3 linked regions of the Homo sapiens genome follow. The protein of the gene in region 3 interacts with the protein of the main gene of each other region in a pairwise test. Each region holds a gene or a part of one and is shown on either strand. Other genes may lie near its edges.

Evidence for each region. Proteins that work in one complex are often made in the same cells at the same time.
Region 1: the proteins of ZNF3 (region 3) and YJU2B interact in binary tests that used the Homo sapiens proteins (3 or more experiments, as listed by UniProt).
Region 2: the proteins of ZNF3 (region 3) and GRSF1 interact in a two-hybrid assay, tested with the Homo sapiens proteins (one study listed by BioGRID).

The regions. Positions count from the first base shown.
Region 1 is NC_000019.10:13,754,395-13,757,894, reverse strand, and holds part of YJU2B (probable splicing factor YJU2B), read right to left. Parts: intron 1,699-3,500; coding exon 1,616-1,698; intron 478-1,615; coding exon 422-477; intron 110-421; coding exon 49-109; intron 1-48. UniProt on the Homo sapiens protein: May be involved in mRNA splicing.
Region 2 is NC_000004.12:70,826,391-70,829,890, forward strand, and holds part of GRSF1 (G-rich sequence factor 1), read right to left. Parts: intron 1,647-3,500; coding exon 1,462-1,646; intron 1-1,461. UniProt on the Homo sapiens protein: Regulator of post-transcriptional mitochondrial gene expression, required for assembly of the mitochondrial ribosome and for recruitment of mRNA and lncRNA. Binds RNAs containing the 14 base G-rich element.
Region 3 is NC_000007.14:100,071,724-100,075,223, forward strand, and holds part of ZNF3 (zinc finger protein 3), read right to left. Parts: coding exon 3,412-3,500; intron 490-3,411; coding exon 1-489. UniProt on the Homo sapiens protein: Involved in cell differentiation and/or proliferation.

The DNA.
Region 1 (3,500 bases), on a different chromosome or scaffold from region 3:
CCTGTGGCCACCCCACCTGTTCCCAAGATGCCACCAAGCCGCCCTTACCTGTAGATCGGGGTTGTGTAGTAATTGCCCACCTTCTTCTTTTCTGCATTGTAACGAACACCTGGAAGGGGGTCAGGCGGGGGTGGTAATTTCATTGCCATCTGAATTTTGCAGATGGGTAAAATGAGGTACAAAGAGGCTCACTGTCACTTGCTGAGGGTTCCCCAACTAGGAGGAGTTAGAGACGGGATTGGAAGCCAGAGCCTGGCTTCCTAATCCCTCTGCAAAGGGGCTTCCATGGCCAGCCAGTCACTCGGGTGCCCGTCTCCTCCCTCATTCCTGATCAGGACCCTCCCACCCCCACCCCGGCGGCATCCAGCAGTTAGGGGGTCTGATGTTTGCAGGACTGAATGGAGGGTGGGCAGAGGCTCACCCATGCCGATGTGGTTCTTGCAGCCATCGCACCAGATGTTATATGGCATTTCGAATCTGCAAAGACAGACAGCATCTTACTTGCACTTGTCCACTTGGACACTCCCTGGGTCTCCACACCTGCGACTCTGGCCGCGGTTGTGATTTGAGGGGTGGGGTATTAGACTGCCCTGTTAACGGGAGTTGCTGCACTCACATTACACAGGAAATGGATATATGGAAGAAAAAGAATCACAACCATTGTAACTGAGCAGGAACTTCCTGCCTGCTAGAAAGCAGACTGACCAGGTCCAGGGACAGCCGCCTTTGGGTGCTGCTGCGACTTTTTTTTTTTGAGACAGAGTCTTGCTCTGTTCCCCATGCTAGAGTGCAGTGGTGCGATCCTGGCTCACTGCAACCTCTGCCTCCTGGGTTCAAGCAATTCTTATGCCTCAGCCTCCCAAGTAGCTGGGATTATAGGTGTGCGCCACCAATTCCGGCGAATTTTTTTTTTTTTTTTGAGATGGAGTCTCGCTCTGTTGCCAGGCTGCAGTACAGTGGCATGGTCTTGGCTCACTGCAACCTCCAGCTCCCTAGTTCAAGTGATTCTCCTGCCTCAGCCTCCCGAGGAGCTGGGATTACAGGTGTGAGCCACCGCACCCAGCCTAATTTTTTCTATTTTCAGTAGAGACAGGGTTTCACTGTGTTGGCCAGGCTGCTCTCGAACTCTTGGTCTCAAGTGATCCACCTGCCTCACCCTCCCAAAGTGCTGGGTTTACAGGCGTGACCCACTGTGCCCAACTACGATCACTGTCTTTTTTGAGAGTCCTATGTGATCAAGTCCAGGCTGGCCTGCTACAGGTTGAGATACAACACGGAGCAGAGCCCAGCTGTACAGGTCAAGTCCCTGCTAAACCAGCCAGTCCCCAGCCAGCCAACTCTGAAACACATGGGAGCCCAGCCCAGATCAGGCCAGCCTAGCCCAGCCCAGCCAAGCTCTTCCAAGCCCAGCAGAGATATTTTGCTGAGCTGCAGACATGTGAGCAATAATAAATGCTTATTGTTTTGTCACACGGCAATAACTGACTGATACGGTGACTTTCTGCTTTATGGAATGAAGACCCTGCAGCACTGGGCCAATGAGGGCACTGAACTCTCCTTGAGACTGAAGGAATGGGGCAGGACGGTGGGGTCCTCAGGTGATGCTGGGCCTTACCGGATGATGAGGATGCCCTGTGACAGCTTCCGAGCCCGCTCCCGAAGCGGGTGGCTGTTGTGGTATCGGTTGAGAGAGCCATGCTGTGTGGAGAGGATGAGGAGCGGATTAGTGCTGCTGAGCTGGAGGAGCTCACAATTTTCTGCCACCCCCACTGCTTTGGGACAAGTGTCTCACAGGTGGGAGAGGCCTTGATTCTTATGTCCTGCAGGACGGGTGTTCATAGCAATAGGGGGCATCCAGGTCTTACTGGAACATGTAGGCTTGGAACCAGGAACGTGAGTTTGAATAGTCCCTCTCTTATTTATTTATTTATTTTTTGAGATGGAGTTTTGCTCTTGTTGCCCAGGCTGGAGTGCAATGGCATGACCTTGGCTCACTGCAACCTCTGCCTCCCGGGTTCAAGTGATTCTCCTGCCTCAGGCTCCTAAGTAGCTGGGATTACAGGCGCCTGCCACCACGCCCGGCTATTTTTTTTGTATTTGTAGTAAAGACGGGGTTTCACCATGTCACCCAGGCTGGTCTCCAACTCCTGACCTCAGGTGATCCACTTGCCTCGGCCTCCCAAAGTGCTGGGATTCCGGGTGTGAGCTACTGCGCCCAGCCCTGTTCCCATTTATGAGCTGAAAGAGCCAGGGGACCCTGGGCGAGTGACCTCACGTTTTGCCTTCCCGAGCCTCTGTTTCCCTTGTCTGTCAACTACGTATAATGGTCATTATTACTTCCAGGTTTTATGGGGAAGATGAGGTGAGGTGACAAGACTGGCAAACATTCGCTGGGGACTTCATGTGCATCACCTTATTTTTTTTTTTTTTTTTTTGAGACAGAGTCTCGCTCTGTCACTAGGCTGGAGTGCAGTGGCGTGATCTCGGCTCACTGCAACCTCCGCCTTCCGGGTTCAAGCGATTCTCCTGTCTCAGTCTCCCAAGTAGCTGGGACTACAGGTGTGGGCCACTACGCCCAGCTAATTTTTGTATTTTTAGTAGAGATCAAGTTTCACCATGTTGGCCAGGATGGTCTTAAACTCTCGACCTGGTGATCCACCTGCCTTGGCCTCCCAAAGTGCTGGGATTAGAGGCGTGAGCCATGGCGCCGGCTTTTTTTTTTTTTTTTTTTGAGGCAGGGTCTGGCTCTGTAGCCCAGGCTGGGGTGCAGTGGTATGATTATGACTCACTGCAGTCTCCACCTCCTGGGCTCAAGCAATCCTCCCACCTCAGCCTCCTGAGTAGCTAGGATTTATCCCTCAATGATTCTGTGAGGTCAGCTCATTTTATTTCCCCCTTCTGACGTATGGAGAAACTTTGGCATAGAGAGGCTAAATCCTATACTCAGGACGAGGCAGCTGGGACACTTGGGCCCTTACTGAGCACCTACTGTGTGGGGACACAGCCACAATAAGATAGATGAACATCTCTGCCTTCAGGGAGAGAATGTTCTAGCGGGGGAGATGGACAAGACGCAAATAAATGAATAAGTGAGGGAGTTATAAGGGCTATGAGATTATATAAAGTGCTCAGCAATGCAACAGAGAACGAGACAGTGGTCAGGGAGGACCTCTGTGAGAAAAGCACTTAAGGAAGTGAGAGTATGGTGAAATGGAGGAAGAGATTCCAGGCAGAGGGGACAACCAGGACGCCACAGGTGCTGGAGCTGGGGAAGCCATGGGATCTGACCCTTCATCTGTGCGCTCTGCCTTATCCTGGGCCCCTGCTGTAAACACACTATACTCTAGTATAGTGTGGACATGGAGTTACAGGTCCCTGAGGAGAGCCACAGTTATCACCCAAAAGTGAAGACAGCCTCGAGACTCAGGTGACATGCAGAAGACAAAAAGACCTTGGGGGCCACCCATCCTTCCGCAGCAGTGGCTCTAACCCCAAGAGGG
Region 2 (3,500 bases), on a different chromosome or scaffold from region 3:
CAACAAATATCACCTGAACACCCATAAGCACTGAATGCCTCAGACCATTACCAGTTTAAGAACTTAGCCCTTTTTGTAACATCAGAGAGCAGGTAAAATGATTATGAATTAAACCCTAAAAGAGACTTTCTAGATTATAGGCACTGAAAAAAAAAAAAAAGAACAAAGGCTGGGCGTGGTAGCTCACACTTGTAATCCCAACACTTTGGAAGGCTGAAGCAGGAGAATCACTTGAGCCCAGGAGTTCGAGACCAGCCTGGGCAACACAGCCAGACACTGTCTCTACAAAAAATAAAAATAAAAATAAGTTAGCTGGGCATGGTGATGCATGCCTATAGTTCCAGCTACTCAGGAGGCTGGGGTGGAAGAACTGCCTGAGCCCAGGAGTTCAAGGTTGCAGTGAGCCATGATTGTGCCACTGCACTCCAGAATGGGCCACAGAACAAGACTTTGTCTCAAAAAACAAAAATATATATACACATATATATAGTGACAAGATAATCCCAGGGTACCAGTTTAAAAAGTATTTATGAAACTTAAAAGATTCCAAATGTTGCCCTGGGTTAGGAATCAAAGAAATAATTAAATCCAGAAGCAAACAAAAATCCTTACTTCAGGCGGGCACAGTGGCTCATGCCTGTAATCCCAGCACTTTGGGAAGCAGAGGCCGGCAGATCACCTGAGGTCAGTAGTTCAACGCCAGCCTGGCCAACACGGGGAAACCCCGTCTCTACTAAAAATATAAAAATTAGCCGGGCACGGTGGCAGGCGCCTGTAGTCCCAGCTACTCGGGAGGCTGAGGCAGGATGATGGCGTGAACCTGGGAGGCGGAACCTGCAGTGAGCCGAGAGTGCGCCACTGCACTCCAGCCTGGGCAACAGAGTGAAACTCTGTCTCAAAAAAAAAAAAATCCTTACTTCAGTCAATATTCCTGCTCATTATCCAAATCTTCCCCCATCTTAATTTAAATGTTGACATCTTACTTCCTTTTATCACATTTTTACTACCCAGCTTTTGATATAGTTAATAAAAATGATTAAATTAAAAACCTAGCAAAATAATTAAGCCTTTCTGCATATACTCAAAGTATGTAAAGTCCTATTAAATCTTTAGGCCGGGTGTGTTGGCTCACACCTGTAATCCCAGCACTTTAGGAGGCTGCGGCTCACTTGAGGTCAAGAGTTCCAGACCAGCCTGGCCAACGTGGCGAAACCCTATCTCTACTAAAAATATAAAAATTGGCTGCGCGTGGCGGCATGCGCCTGTAGTCCCAGCTACTCAAAGAGGCTGAGGCAGGAGAATCACTTGAACCCAGGAGGTAGAGGCTGCAGTCAGCCGAGATCGCACCACTGCACTCCAGCCTGGCAACAGAGCGAGACTTCATCTCAAAAAAAAAAAAATCACAAAACCCAAAACATTCAAGATAGACCCAATGAGTCTCAAGAAGAGGCAGGACCTTACCTATTTCCTTCTCACTTTCAAAAGCTGTCATGGGTTGAATATCCTCATTTACTTCATGTTCTTCAAAGACCATTTCTGGCTCAGTTATATACTTAGCAGTAGGAAAAGATGCGATTTTCTTTCCCTTATAAGAACCGACATGTGTTCGAACTTCATTCCTTCTGCTTGGAAATATCTCGATGTATCTATGTCAAAGCAAAAGTAAACAGGCACAAATGGTGCAAAGTAACTTTATACTGAACTCATTTAAAATAAACATGTATACATTATATTTCCAACAGCTTATGAAACACAGGTGTCAAAAGATAACAGGTAGGGAAAACTAATAATGCATACAGATAGTAGCCCATGAAAATATACAACAGAGTAGGTCACTGATTTAAGTTTTTGCATCAAGGTAACACTTTTTCTTCACATACATTTTAATAATATTTTCTACTCTGTTTTGCTTCATGAGAACAACTATGCTTAAGTTAATTGTGTATACAGAAAAAATTAATCTCATAAGGGTTTTTTAAATTGCTGGTTAACAATCTCTTGAAGCTCTGAAATTCAATTCTGTGCAAATTAATCATATCTGTATAAGATATTAAAAGTCACAGTAAAAGAAGAGCTAACTTCCCCAGAACTTCACTAAAAGGCTGAGAATTCAAGAACTAAGTATCAATTATGACTTGCTATCACAGGAGGGGACTATCTATTAAACCCAAGCTTCTGGAACAATTTTTTTTTTTGAAACTTGGGTTTCTTGCTGTCACCCAAGATGGTGTGCAGTGGTGTGAACATGGCTCACTGCAGCCTCAACCTCCTAGGCTCAAGTGATCCTCCTGCCTCAGCCTCCTGAGTAGCTGGGGACTACTGCCACCTGCCACCACACACTGCTAATTTTTTTTTTTTTTTTTTGAAGCAGAGTTTTGCTTTTGTTGCCCAGGCTGGAGTGCAATGGCACGATCTTGGCTCACTGCAACCTCTGCCTCCTGGGTTCAAGCAGTTCTCCTGCCTCAGCCTCCTGAGTAGCTGGAATTACAGGCGCCCGCCACCACGCCCAGCTGATTTTTTGTATTTTTAGTAGAGACAGGGTTTCACTATGTTGGCCAGGCTGGTCTCAAACTCCAGACCTCAGGTGATTCACCTGCCTCAGCCTCCCAAAGTGCTGGGATTATAGGCATGAGCCACCATGCCCAGCCCACACACTGCTAATTTTTTTATTTTTTATTTTTGTAGACATGGGTTCTTGCCATGTTGCCCAAGTTGCTCTTGAACTCCTGGGCTCAAGTGATCCTCCCACTTCGGCCTCCCAAAGTGCTGGGATTATAGGCATGGGCCACCGCGCCCAGCACAGTTTCCTTTTTCTTAACATGGCCTTCTAAACTAAGAGTTATAAAACTAGCTTGTGTTTACAAATCTATAAAGATTAGATGAGCACTACTTCTTTAAAAAAAAAACCTTTGAGCCTGGACAACAAAGTGAGACACCATCTCTACAAAAGTTTTTTTTTGTTTTTTTTTTTAATTAGCCAGGAGACCAGGTACAGTGGCTCACACCTATAATCCCAGTACTTTGGGAGGCTGAGGCAGGTGGATCACTTGAGCTCAGGAGTGTGAGACCAGCTTGGGCAACATGCAAAACCCCGTCTCTACAAAAATACAAAAATTAGCTGGGTGTGGTGGCATGTATCTGTAGTCCCAGCTACTTGGGAGGCTGAAGTGGGAGGATTGCTTGAGCCCAGGAGGCCACAACTGCAGTGAGCTGTATCACACAACTGCACTCCAGCGAGGGTAACAGAATAAGACTCTGTCTAAAATTAGCCAGGCATGGTGATGCATGCCTGTGGTACCAGCTACAAGGAAAGCTGAGATGGCAGGACTGCTTGAGCCCAGAAGGTCAAGGCTGAAATGAGCAGTGTTTGTGGCACTGCACTTCAGCCTGGGTGACAGAGCAAGATCCTGTCTCAAAAAACCAAAAAACCTTTGAACCACTTCTATCAGTAGATCCTGAAACACTGGCTTTGGAATGGCTGTTTTGTTTACTTCAAAGGA
Region 3 (3,500 bases):
TTTCCCCAGTGTGGATTCTCTGATGCTGAATAAGGTGTGAGCTCTGGCTGAAGGCCTTCCCACACTCATTACATTCATAGGGCTTTTCCCCAGTGTGGATTCTCTGATGTTGAATAAGGTCTGAAGTTCGATTAAAGCTCTTGCTACATTCATCACACTTATGGGGTCTGTCTCCCACGGGGAGTCTCTGATGTGAGATAAGGTTGGAATTCACAGTGAAGCTGTTCCCAAAATCATTATATTTCTCGCTTCTCTCTCCCCTGGGGGTTAGCTTCTCCTCAACTGTCACTTGACCAAAATCTGGCATTTTCCTGTTCAGTCTTTCTCCAGGGGAGTTCCCCAGCGGCCTTTTCAGACTGACTTCTCGTTCATAGGCTTCTTTAAACTTGAGACCCTGAGAAATATCCTTTTGAAATCTTCCCAGTAGGACCCCATGTGATCTTGTGTCTTCAGAAATTTCTTGATCATTTTCAGTCCTGGTCTCACGATCTGACACAATAAAAAATGCAAATGTCACTTGTTCCTTAGGGAAGAAAGAGTGAAAATCACAGGACAGGATCATTGTAACGAATACTTACAGTGCCAAAAGCACATGCCTACAAAGAGGCCTGCCCCACATGTGTGCGGCTAAGGCAAAATGAGACAGCCGGGCTAAGGAGACAGGGAAGGGGCAGGGCAGAGCAAAACCAAGGAGAACAGAGCTGGAAGTGGAAAGAAAGCTGAGTGTGTGTGGAGGGGAGGACGGATCAGGCAGAGAGGCAGGGAACCAACTTTAGAAGAGGAAGGTCATATTGCTTAATGAAGTGACAAAGCCTTTAGAGAGGTCAGGGCAGTGGATATAACTGGGGACACAGTGACTGCAAGAAGGGAGAGCAAGTACAGGACAGTTGGTGAGAAAAGGGGGGAAGGGTGAGGAGAGACAGCAGCAGCGCGGGAACAAGCAAGGGGGAGGATGCTAGTGGCTGCCATGGCCCCATAAGAAGAGCAATCATGGCTGTCGTCACGCCACAAATGCCAAGCCCATGGAAACGGCAAGACAACTGAGTCCGCCTCTGGGCCCTATGCATAAAAGGCTATGCTCGCACGTAAGGCTATGCAAAGAATCTCAGTGTCTGACGTCTCTGTTTTCACTCCTTTTGAGTTTCTAAAGCCAACTCTGGGCACAGAGGATAAATGTAAAGGGTCCAGAGAGTTTGCGTTTTTAGCTTAATTGATATTTTAAAAAGTAAAGACAGGGTAATGTGTGTTAGGGACGGGAACGGCTGTTTCTCCTTCACCTGAAGAGGTACCTCTTAGGACCTCTCTGCTCTCAGTTCCTTTGAAACCCAGGCCCCTTGGCTCTTCCTCTCATTCTAGCAGAGAGATGGTGGCAGGATTCAGAAATGGGAATTCTGCTCATGGGGAGAGACATGGGACAAGGAGGTTTATCTGCTCACCCTGAGAGTCCCAGAGCTCAATTCCAGACCCCAGATCTGCCGGGGACAGAAGGGAAATGTACAGGAAGGTCTCAAATGAGAGTTAGGAAGACGTCCTGGCTCTGCTCAGGAAAATGCCCACTAAGAGTGGGGTGAGAGACAAGGAATTCTACATCCTAAAAGTTGAGAAACTAATTTATTAATCTTTCTTTTTTTGTTTTTGTTTTTGAGACAAGGTCTCACTCTATCGCCCAGGATGGAGTGCAGTGGCGTGTTCTTGGCTAACTGCAACCTCCACCTCCCAGGTTCAAGCAATTCTCCTGCCTCAGCCTCCCAAGTAGCTGGGATTACAGGCACATGCCACCACCCCCAGCTAATTTTTTTTGTATTTTTAGTAGAGATGGCGTTTCAACATGTTGGCCAGGCTGGTCTCAAACTCCTGACCTCAGTATCTGCCCGCCTCAGTCTCCCAAAGTGCTGGGATTACAGGCATGAGCCACCGCGCCTGGCCTAATTTCTTAACCTTTCTAAGTTTCTACAGAGCAGCAGGGGCACTAGGTCCTGAACAAAGCAACAGGTCCCTAGAAGTTAGAGAAGGGGAGCAGAGAAGCAGAGAAGGAGAGGACAGAGACGTGGGCAAAGAGCAGCACCTCATGTGTTCAGGGATAATCCTTCGGAAAAGTCTCTGGATTATATATTAAGTCCTGAGAATAACACGGAAAAAGTATCAGATTTGGCCAGGCGCGGTGGCTCATGCCTGTAATCTCAGCACTTTGGGAGGCCGAGGCAGGTGGATCACCTGAGGTCAGGAGTTCGAGACCAGCCTGACCAACATGGAAAAACTCCGTCTCTACTAAAAATACAAAATTAGCTGGGTGTGGTGACGCATGCCTATCATCACAGCTACTCAGGAGGCTGTGGCAGGAGAATTGCTTGAACGCAGGACGCAGAGGTTGCGGTGAGCCGAGACCACGCTATTGCACTCCAGCCTGGCAACAAGAGTGAAACTCCATCTCAAAAAAAAAAGGTACCAGATTTGGAGTTAAAGACTGGGCCCCAAGTTTTGCCACTCATCAGCCCAACTGATGACCATGCATGCACAAGACATTGAGACCGCTACTCTCACCTCCACTTTATTTACTTATTTATTTTTTGAGACAGGGTCTGTGTCACCCAGGCTGGACTGCAGTAATGCCATCTCGGCTCACTGCAACCTCGGCTTCCCAGGCTCAAGTGATCCTCCAACCTCAGCCTCCCAAGTAGCTGGGACTACAGGCATGTGCCACCATGCCTGGCTAATTTTTTGGATATTTGGTAGAGACAGGGTCTCGCCATGTTGCCCAAGCTGGTCTTGAACTCTTGACCTCAAGTGATCCTCCTGCCTCAGCTTCTCAGAGTGTTGGGATTACAGGTGTGAGCCACCTCGCCTGGACTACTTTCACTTTCCTTACCTGTAAAATGAGGAATAATACTAGCTGCCTCAATTAATGTGTTACTGTGAAGATTAAATGAAAGAATATATATGAGAACTCTTTATAAGTTGCAGACTGCTGTATAAATGAGTTAAGATTATTGTTCTTACAGTTTCCTAAGACTAAGTCAATCCTTACCTAGGCCAGGTGCAGTGGCTCATGCCTATAATCCCAGCACTTTGGGAGGCCAAGACGGGTGGATCACTTGAGGTCAGGAGTTTGAGACCAGCCTGGCCAACATGGTGAAACCCCGTCTCTACTAAAACAAAAAAAAACAAAACAAATACAAAAATTAGCCTGGTGTGGTGGTGCGTGCCTGTAGTCCCAGCTACTTGGGAGGCAGAGGTGAGAACCTGGGAACACTTGAATCTGGGAGATGGATGTTGCACTGAGCAAAGATTGTGCCATTGCACCTCAAAAAAAAAATCTGCTGAAACAGCTCTTTTCAGTGACTAGATTGTTACTAGCAAACGAAGAAGCAAAGAAACACCAGCGAGTTTTGTTGACAAGGCATAACTCCTTACCCAGTGAGAACACATTCCCGTAATTCTCCAGCATCACATCTCTATAGAGGTCCCTCTGAGCAGGTTCCAAACGCTTCCACTCCTTCCGG